Linked DNA regions of Homo sapiens: region 1 is linked to region 2. Evidence: fine-mapped expression QTL. A gene starts in region 2. The other region holds a variant in brackets. All regions are shown on one strand. Distances are between the middles of the regions. Region 1 overlaps ATP6V0E2-AS1 (ATP6V0E2 antisense RNA 1). Region 2 holds the start of ZNF862 (zinc finger protein 862).

Region 1 (5,372 bases), 32 kb after region 2:
TCCCTCTGGCGAGCCCTTGCGGCTCCACATCCTCGGGACGGCACGCTCCCACGGGACTGGAGCAAAGGTTTCAGAGACTCGGGATACAGCCAGATCTCTTCGGTGAGGAGACTCAGTCTTACTCGAGTGTATGTGATTTTTAAAAAAGACATTGAAACAACTATGGAAACAGAGGCAAAGGCAGCAAGGCTTTGGGTTTGCGACTGGGAATCCGTGCGGCCTCCCTTTGGTGAAGACCTGACCCCGTGGTGGGGGTGAACAGGGTTTCCTTGACCCCGTCCCAGGGTTCCCTTCAGGACAGATGGATTTCACTAGGGGAAGCGTGATGCTGGTAGCCTCCACTCTCAGGCTGGGCAGGGTAGGCTCCCAGGGAGGCAGCTCCCAGCGCAGCCTCTTCCATCACTCCGGCTGGAGCTAGAAGGAGAGAAGTGAGCTGAGGCTCTAGAAAGTGCTGCACTCCTGCCTTTCTTTTTCCCAAGGGTGCTCTTGACATCTGGAGTGCAGTCAGCAGGCCTTTCCGAGTGGGCTGGCTGCCTCAGATGCCTCAGTCCCTGTTGCTGGGGATGCTTCGGTGGGGCCTCCTCACTGTGGGCCTTCTCTTGGGTCAGTGTGATCCTCGTGTCCCTTCCCTGTGCCAGCGACACTCGTGGGCTTCACGTGGCTGGCCCCTGCTCCCAGGGCTCTTGAGATGCTGCCTCTGACTGCAGCTCCTGCCACACTGGCACCTGTGTGGCCGCTGCTCCCCTCTGCACCTGGGAATAGCTGCCCAGAGACTTCCTGTTTTGAACCTTTTGCCTTGCTCAGGCAGCCAGCAAGGGCCCTGGCACTCACAACAGAAGGGCCCTGCAGTGCTGCGGCTCTGCTGGCGGGCCAGGACAAGCTGTGGGGCGCAGACACACTGGGCACACTCCAGACAGGCACAGGGCCTCTGGGCAGTGAGTTTGCAAGTGTTTTGTGGTCCTGGATCATGCACAGGCTTCTTGGCAGCCAGGAGAGGCTGTCTCTGCATTTAGTGTGCACACCTGAAAGAGCGGCCCCTCACCCACTAGGCAGTGTCCTCCCACATCCCCAGGAGGGTCTTCCTGTGCCATCTGAGGTCCACTTAGTGGAAAGCCTTTGCCACACCAGGACACTTTCAGGACTACTCCCCCACGTGGCTGTGCTCATGGTGGCCAGGGCTATATGGCTCTTGAAGCTCTCCACACACTTGGCACAGATGGATGGCTTTTCCAGTGGAATCAAAAGGACTCAGGCATTCTGAGGCCAGTCTGGCCTTGGGGTTTTTCAGCTTCCCAGAAGCCTGCAGAATCGTTCTGGGGGGTTCCCAGTTGCCTCCAGAATCATCTTCAGTCTTGTTTCTGACTGTGTTACCAAATACTGTGGAAGAAACTCAGATGTTAGCCTAGTGATGGGGACACACTTCTTTTGTTCAGTGTGACCTGCTCAGCCTCTAGCCCCCAGCCCCAGCGAGATGACGGATAAGGCAGCGTCCTGTGGATGCCAGAGCCGGGGCCAAGTGTGGGTCAGCATCCCAGCTCAGAGGAGCGGCCCAGTTTGTCTGAGAACACTGAAGTCCCAGAGCCCTGGGGAGGGGCTTCTGACCAGCACTCCTCCTGCTCTCATTCCAACACACACAAAGGGAATGTCCTGGTCCAGGGAGCCAGGGCTCTCTTGCTGCCATGTGAATAATTCCCTGTAGCAGCCACTGCTAGACAGCAAGCTTGGGAAGCCTTCTTATGCAGAAATCAAAGTCATTTTTATAAAAAGTGTCACAGAGTCCCTTATGAAGACAGCTGGACAGAGCAGGAGCCGACCCTTCCCTGACTGCCCAGTTCAGTGAGCCCGGTAAAATATCTGCCGTCAGCAGCCTGCCATGAGGTGCAGTGAGGACCTTCTACTTCATCCCTCCAAGCTGAGTCGTATCATAAAATGCATACTTTATGTTCCTTCTGCCTGTAGAGAATCAGAAAGCACATGATGGAGGTTTCAGAAAAGGGCTTGTGAGATCGAGCATGTCAGAGCTGAAGATCTGTGTCTGTGAGACATGTCCTCCTGAAAGAGCACACATGAGCTGACATAGCCACGGCGCCGGATTGCCCTCACCCTGATTGTCCCATCAGTGTAGCTTGTCTCAAGAGGTTTACACTGTGGCTGTGTTTCTCACAGGTTACCCAAACTCCTATCATAAAGGCAGGAAACAGAAGTAAAAAACCTGAATCCAAACCACAGGAAGTGCTGCGGAGATACTGATTC[G/A]TGGGTTGATCAGAGCCCAGGAGGCACTAAAGGCTCAATGAACATGGTGATCTTTGTGCAAGAGATGTTCCATCAAGGCTTACCTGGCTGGGTGGTAGCTTTTTGGCCTCTGTTGGGGGCTGGGAATCCTTCACCCAAAGCTCATGTTCCCTTTCAAGTCTACAAGTGATCTCTGGTTTGGCAGCAGCATGCACTGTAGGGAGAAAGACAGCCCAGTGCCCCTCAACCCACACTGAGCGCACATAGACCCGTGTCAGTCCTGAAGCCTGACTTGCACCACCCATTTAATGCCCTGGGCTCACCCTATCAATTTGGGACAGCGGGGGTAGGTTGTAAACCTAAGAGAGCTCCAGAAGTAGGCAGGGCCTGGCATACAGGTAGGGATGTTTATTTCAGGGCAACTTCAGGAGTGCCAAGGGCTGATAAAACAGTGCAATTGTCATAATATGTTTTCCCACTGCCAGGGCCCTTGAAGGAGAAACAGGCTCAACTAGTCACAGAGACAACCATGCTCTGGGTCTAGTTCTCCCTGACCCCACAGGCCAGGAGTGCCCCTATTAGATGGCAAGCAAGCAAGGGGCCAAGGTCCTCACCCAGCAAGACTCCCAGCTCCTAATTCCTTCTTATCACATCCTGGTATAATTCCTTCTACTCATGGCCACCAGAACAATGGGTGGAAGGTAGGTGGTTACATCATTAAATGTCACAGGCCTTATTTGCAAAGACAGAGACATCTGGAGCTGTTGTTCTCACCTCCGACACGTGCCCCGTCTGCAGAGAGCATTAGGATGCATCTGTGGCTCTGAGGTGTGATTTCCTAGGGCCTTCAAGTGTCCTGGGGCTCCTGTTCATTTGCACTGGGGGACACTCAGGGAAGTTTTAAAGAGCCTCTTTCAGTGGCTCCTTCTCCTTCTACCCTTTCTAGGAATTCATCAGCCCCATGAAAAGATGAACGATAGAGATGTCACCAACATCAGGACCCCACTCCCTGGGAGATGTCATGGAAACTTGTCAATCACACCCAAAGCACTCACTGAGGAGCCATGGCAGAGCAGTCGGTGGCGCCAATACCAACCAGAAGCCGCCAGGGCAGAGGGGAACCGTGAAGCCAGTGGAATGCACAGCTCCACCTCAGGGGACCGGGGTAGGCGGGGCTGTGTCTGGTAACATGCCCTTTGCCTCACATTAGTGCCTCTGAAAATAGTGTCCTCAGCCTGGGCACAAACCCTAGGGGTGAGCTGGGAGTGTGGAGGAGACGCTGGATTAGGGAGAAGTCTCGGCCATGTGTTCTGGCTCTTTTACTGATGAGCTGTGTGGGCCTAGGCAAGTTACTTCACTTCTCTGGGCCTCAGTTTTATCACCTGTAAAGTGATAGGATTGCCTTAGCCTCTAAGATCCCTTTCAGCTAAAAACAAAGTTCTAGAAAATAAATATGTGGTACTGTGGAACTCTGGGGAGCTGTTTGATCAGGTGAACAGTTTACCCATGGAAATGGGGCTCCAGCACAAAGCTGCTCACATCTTCCAGTCACGCTCCAGGGAACAGCCAGGGCTTGTGGGCCCAGATGAGGCTTTAGTGGTTGGAGAAGGAGCCAGTTCCTGGTTTTAATCCCTTCATGGACCTCAGACCATCACAAAGCTGCCAAACAAATGACACAGGCAATCACATGCAAATTAGGACAGAAATGAAACATCAAAGACATTAAAGGAAAAGAGTAAGAGCTGCAGGCTGCTAATATGAGTGGCTGCTCAGACTCAGCAATGTTTTTGGTTCTGGCCAAAGCCAAGACAAAGGAGCAGAGGCAAAGAAGGAAATACATTTCACTTTACAGCTGTCATTTTCTACAGAGGATTTTTTTTTTTCCAGAACAAAATTCAAAAAGTCCGTCTTTTTTGAGCTATAGAACTTTCGTGGTGATTTTTTTTTTTTTTTTTTTTTTGAGACGGAGTCTCACTCTGTCCCCCAGGCTGGAGTGCAGGGGCACAATCTCGGCTCACTGCAAGTGCAAGCTCTGCCTCCCGGGTTCACGCCATTCTCCTTTCAGCCTCCAAAGTAGCTAGGACTACAGGTGCCCGCCACCATGCCCAGCTAATTTTTTTATATTTTTAGTAGAGACGGGGTTTCACCGTGTTAGCCAGGATGGTCTCGATCTCCTGACCTCGTGATCCGCCCGCCTCTGCCTCCCATAGTGCTGGGATTACAGGTGTGAGCCACTGCGCTCAGCCCTCGTGGTGATTTTTTGAAGGCCTGTATGGACATACTCTTAACTCTATCTCCTGGATGCCAAGTGCACCCTTATCCTAGGCCAGTGTTCTCAACAATGTACACACTCTGGATGAGAAAAATAACCATTGTTTACAATCCAGCTAAAATCTCACCTCCTCCAGGGAGTCTTCCTGGATTTCTCCACCCTCTGAATTCTCATAATGGGCATTTGGCTACTTTGATCACAGGGCTCTTAGAACTGCGCTGTCCAGCATTATGATTTTACCAGAATATATCACTCCTCAACTACTTTAGAAACCCCTCGAAGGCTAGGATGGTATTTTATACCTAACAGTTTGGTGTCATCCCACGCCCACCTCCAACTTACATGAATGTTGGAAGGATGGATAGGGAGGTTTCAACTAGAGAACGGAGAAGGGCGGATGTAACTGGTTCTTGATTTCAGAAAACAGCCAGGAGCACACATGGCTGACGGGGTCAGTGCAAGGACAGGCACATTTCCCTTCTGCATCACGTGGGGACTGCGCCTCCCTATGTCATGAAGCCAGGGAATATGTGTGGCCGGCCGCTTGGGGTAGCACTTGTTGCTAGAGATACCGCCTGGAGGCCACTGATCTGTAAAAGGGATCTCTACAGAAGATAGGGATTTTTGATCGCCAGAGAAGAAGGGATATGTGAGATCCAAACGCCGAAGGAGGAAAGCAGGCTCCGTGGTCTCTTCCAGCCCTGATGGAAGAAACTACCGAGCCTTATTATACTAGGTGCTTTCCACATGCCTATTCATTTAATCCTCCAGCAACCTTGTAAGAAGGGCCATCCCATTTTATATTTAAACAAACCTTAACTACTGACGCAAGGAGTCAAGGATCTAATCCCAAAGCCTCTGCCTGGTT
Region 2 (5,320 bases):
ATTACTCCTGCAAGTACTGTTCATTCCCTTGCTTTTCTGTGCCTCCTTCATACCTACCTGGCAATACTCCAAGCCAGGATGAAGCCAAATATCTACCCAACTTTCTGCTTCTAAACAGAATTTCGCAGCCAGGCTTTTTTTAAACTGAAATTTGTGATCATAAACTTCAAATTGGCCTTTAATTCAAGGTTTGAGGTAAGCTCTATTTCCCATTCTCCAAGATGACTTGGTATACCTTCTATTCCCCACTTCATTTTCATGAGATGATCTTGTCTCAAAGAGACATCATCGGATGGAAATTCCCTCAGTAAATCTACAAACAAATGTACATCTACTCCATCTTCTTCTTCCCTCCTGGCATAACCAAAAGTGTTGCTATCCCGGCCAGACGCGGTGGTTCAGGCTTGTAATCCCAGCACTTTGGGAGGCCAATGCAGGTGAATCACTTGAGGTCAGGAGTTCGAGACCAGCCTGGCCAACATGGTGAAATCCTGTCTCTACTAAAAATACAAAAATTAGCAGGGTGTGATGGTGCACGCCTGTAGTCCCAGCTACTCAGGAGGCTGACACAGGGGAATTGTTTGAACCTGGGAGGTGGAGGTTGCAGTGAGCCAAGATTGAGCCACTGCACTCCAGCCTGGGTGACAGAGAGAGACTCCATCTCAAAAAAAAAAAAAAAAAAAAAAGTGTTCCTATCCCTAGGAAGGGCCCTCGATACCCTGTTCCTAGACCCTCCTGATTTCTCAAGGACTTGGTTCCTTGCACTATCCCCCTTTGAATCATCAGTTTCCTTCCCATCAACACAGAAACAAGATCTTGTGACTCATATCTTAGTCCTACTGCTTTGATTCCCCATTTCCCCCTAGATACTGCTCCATTTTTCTTGGAAAGATGGAAAACCTTTTATGGAAAAATGTGTCAAAAGAATGATTTACCCTAGCTGTCCTCCAGTTTTTTAACCCCTAAAAGAGAATCTGTTATAAAGACATGGATAACTCATGGGCAGAAATATAGCTCTTCAAGGTAGTGATATAGTCGAGGTGGTGAGTGGCAGGCCACTTGGAATCCACAGAGTCCTCACTCTCTGCCTTCTCCTCCACATTTCTTGTGTCTCATTCTTTTTTTCAGTAATGCAGACTCCCCTACACTCCTCGAACGGAATTTAGGTCTATTCAACCTTGGCCAGAAGAGCAGAGCTGGATAATGGAAAACGCTTACTTGAAGCCTGTGTAACATGGTGAAACCCTGTCTCTACTAAAAATACAAAAAAATTAGTTGACCATTGTCTTAATCTCTATGTGCTTCTGTAACAAAATCCCTGGAACTAGGTAATTTATAAATTATGGATACTTATTTCTTATGATTCTGGAGGCTGGGAAATCCAAGATCAAAGCACCAGCAGTGTCTGTGTCTGGTGAGAGCCTGGTCTCTGCTTCCAGGAGGGCACCTTTTTGCTCTGTCCTCACATGGCAGAAGGCAGAGGGGCAGAAGGGCAAAGGGCCTAGCTAGTTCCCCCAGCACGCATGTGGTCACTAACACCTTCATGAAGGCACATCCCTGCCCTGGCCCCCTAAAAGTCTTTTTTTTTTTTGAGACATGGTCTTGCTCTGTCACCCAGGCTGGAGTGCAGAAGCGCCATCCCGGCTTACTGCAGCCTCGACCACCCAGGCTCAAGTGATCCTTCCACCTCACAAAATTATTTTATTTTTATAGAGATGGGATCTCTCACTGTGTTGCACAGGCTGGTCTCAAACTACTGGGCTCAAGTGATCCTCCTGTCTCAGCCTCCCAAAGAGTTGGGATTAGAGGTGTGAGCCACCGCACTTGGACAAAACTTCTTATAAGGACACTAATCCCACCATAAGGGCCTGACCCTCACGACTTCATCTAAACCTCCCAAACGCCCCATCTCCTGGGAGGGGAACACCGGTCAGTCCATTGCACCTCCTTTACCTGGCAGACCCTACCTCTTGCTTTAATTCTGCTGAGGCATCACTTCCGCAGGAAATCCTTGACTAAGCACCTCATATCCCCCACCGCTTCACTCTAAGGTGACAACGCGGGCTTTAATTCATGTTTTGTGCTTACCTCTTTCATAGCCCTTGTCTCTGTTTTGTAATTATCTGTTTCTGGTCTGATTCCCTAATAGATCGTGAGTTCCTTGAAGGCAAGGCCTTTGTCTCATTCAACTGTGTTCTCCCAAACCCTAGAACACGGCCTGACCCATGGTAGGCAACCAATGATACTTTTTGAGTGAATAGAACAAAAAGTATTGCCCTCCTTAATAAAAGAAAACCTAGAACTTCAAGGCTGACATTGGCCTTCGCGTAGCCCAATCAGAGCGCTTTGCCCTTGCTGCAGAGGACTAAAGGACGCCACGCCGCCGTTGCCTAGTAACTGTCGCCGGAGGGAGGCGGGGAGGGTCGCAAGCGCGCCGCCGGCGTCCAATCAGGACCTGCGTTCCGGGAGCCAATAGCAGCTTCGAGAGCCGCTCACCTAGAGCGGACTACACTTCCCGTCACGCCCCGCCGCCTGGGGCTGGGCAGTGACCGTAAAGCTGTTCGCTCGGTGCGACGCAAGTCTCAGCTCAGCGCGCTTATCCTGGGTCCACCGGCGCTACCGCCCCCCGACGTGAGAGAGCGAAGTTCTTGGGCCGCGCTCCCTCCCTACCTGGGTGCCCTCCCCCTCCGGGAGCCTGGGTCCCCGGGGCGGTCGCGGCGGCTGCATCCTCAGGCCAGGCCGCGGGGGGAGGGGGCGGCACGGGCCTCCGAAAGCGGGGCCATGGAGCCCAGAGAGTCGGGGAAGGTAGGACTGGAAGGCCCGGGGGCCGCCCGCTCCCTCCCGAGGATCCCCGAGCCGGGCTCGGGCGAGGCGGGGCGGCTCGGGCGGAGGCCCCGCAGATGAGCCAGGCTTGCAGGGAAGGACTCGCCGGCCCGCCCTCTCTTCCCGCACTTCGGCGCCCGACCCCGGGAGGGTGGCGGAGAGGAGCGGACGCTTCCGTTCGGTGTCCGCGCATCCTCCCCGAGCTGCCGAGCGTCCGCTGGGTCGATGCTGGGTTGGGTGACCCCCGAGTGGAGCGATGCGAAGGTGCTTCCTGTTTTCCCCACCACCTTCGGCGTTTTGAAGAGGCCCTGCTAAGGCTTGGAGTCTGGATCGGACGCCAGTGGGAGCTGCAGGGTGGGACGCTTGAGGGCTTGACCCTGCCTAGATCCTCCTTACCAAGAAAGGGCTGAAAAGAGAGGGCATCTGGCATGCTTTTTGCCACTTCTGTTTCTAGGTTATGTACTTCATGGAATATCTGGGCATTGCTTAGAAACCTGTGTCATAAATTGGCTTTGGGCAAGAGGCTTTGAGTTGGAAGAAAAGGTGGAAAGAAAGTGCTTGGGGGCGGAGTTCAGGGATTTGACGGGATTGCCAGCGCTTCCAGGCCGTGTCATCCAAGACCAGTGTGGTTGTGGGCACATTAGCTTGGAGACAGTGGCAGCCTCTTGGGACTAACATCTTTCTGGATGTTGTTTGCTGCCAGTTCTTGAGTATTGTTTCTTATTTGGCACAGAGGAGAATTCTCTCAACAAACGTTTTCGACTGTTTATTGAGTCCCTTAAAAAACTGTCCATTTAATAAACATTTGTGATCTGTGATTTGCATTGAACGAGATGCTGGAAGTATGAGGATAAATAGGAAATGATCACCTTTCTCAAGGAGCTCTCCTGCAGTTTTCACTTCAATAACTTGGACACGCCTGAAAGGGTTGTCCCACACGAAAAGAGAGAAAAGGATAATGAGGTTCTTTTGATGCTGTAGTTTTTCCTGGGAAGACTAGGAAGGACTCTGAATTTCAAAAGAGGTGATTTCTCGCATGAGCATCTCTTCCATCCTCCCTCCCTCCACAAGCTACAGTGATGCATGTAGCAGACACGGCACCTACAGAGTACGTGGTCCAAGCCAATAAAGCTCAACAAAACCCAAGCAAAGATGGAGCTTATGGCCCTTACCCTTTGGAAATATCCCCAGATTGGTTTAGATTGAACCTGAATTTGAATAAAGAGAAGCAAAATGTAGGGGGAAGAAGGATTATAAAATATTGGGATTGATATTGGTATCAGTGATTTGAAGTTGATTTCCAAGCTATTCTGTTCAGTCAGAGGCTTTCTTAGCCTTTAACGGGAGAAGAGAAATACGGTCATGCGCTGTATAACAAGGTTTCCATCAACACCGCTCTCACGTACAATCCCCTGAGACTACAGTGGGGCTGAGAAATTCCTATCACCTGGTGACATCTTCATGATCCTGACCCTGTGTAGGCTTAGGCTAATGTGTGTGTTTGTGTCTTAGGTTTTAAGAAAGCTTAAAAAGTAAAAAAAAAAAAAAAAAAAAAAAAAAAAAAAATTTAAAAATACAAAACCTCATAGAATTAGAATATAAAGAAAAATACTTTTTGTTGATGGAATGGTTTGCTGGAAAATAAAAATACAAAAATATTTAAAGAAAAATATTGTACAGGTGTACAATGTGTGTTAAGCTAAGTGTTATTACAAAAGAGTCAAAAGTTTAAAAAATTAAGTTTATAAAGTAAAACAGTTACAATAAGCTAGGGTTAATTTATTATTGAAGAAAGAAAAATTTTTGATAAATTCGGCGTAGCCTTAGTGTGCAGTGTTTATAAAGTCTACAGAAGTGTTCAGTCATGTCCTAGGCCTTCACATTCTCTCACCACTCACTCACTCACTCACTCACTCACCCAGAGCAACTTCCAGTCCTGCAAGCTCCATTCATGGTAAGTGCCCAATACAGATGGACCTTTTTTTTTTTTTTGTCTTTTCTACCATATTCTTACTGTACCTTTTCTATGTTTAGATACGCAAATACTTACCATGTGTTACAGTGGCCTACAGTTTTCAGTACAGTAACATACTGTGTAGGATTGTAGCCTAGGGGGCAAAAGGCTATATACCATATAGCCTAGATATGTAGTAGGCTGTACCATGTAGTTTTGTATAAGTACACTCTGTGATGTTCCACAATGACAGAACTGCCTAAGGACACATTTCCTAGAACTTATCCCTGTTGTTAAGCAACACATGACTGTACAAACATTTTGGGAGGTAGAGGAGAAACCTGATTCCGTGTCCTGTCCAACCACTAAGTGAAACCTCAGAGACTGGAAATTTCACCCTTGATTATAATCTTGATTTTAGGGTATCTCAGAAAGGTGCTCACCCTTCCCAAAGATAGTTGTTTTCTAATATGGGAAATGAGAACTTCATACAAGAATGAAATAAAGTAATTACAAAACCAACTGTCAGTGTAAGATGTGTTG

What was found. PIP is the estimated chance that this variant, and not a neighbour inherited with it, causes the effect. A credible set is the group of variants that fine-mapping cannot tell apart.
Region 1: its variant is the best candidate, but not a certain one, in a credible set for the expression of ZNF862 in whole blood (TOPMed, PIP 0.58).

Annotation. Positions count from the first base shown.
Region 1 is chr7:149,867,906-149,873,277 of GRCh38, forward strand. It overlaps ATP6V0E2-AS1 (ATP6V0E2 antisense RNA 1), which reads right to left. Exons shown (of 4, transcript NR_027040.1): 1 at 5,319-5,372; 2 at 3,737-3,891; 3 at 2,337-2,446; 4 at 1-1,953. It also overlaps a transcript of ATP6V0E2 not described here. Among named protein-coding and RNA genes, the nearest start is that of ATP6V0E2-AS1, 3.3 kb to the right of the region's middle. The variant G/A (reference allele first, on the strand shown) is at 2,254.
Region 2 is chr7:149,835,831-149,841,150 of GRCh38, forward strand. It overlaps ZNF862 (zinc finger protein 862), which reads left to right and starts at 2,545. Exons shown (of 8, transcript NM_001099220.3): 1 at 2,545-2,805. The coding sequence starts at 2,782. RefSeq lists a silencer at 2,621-3,080.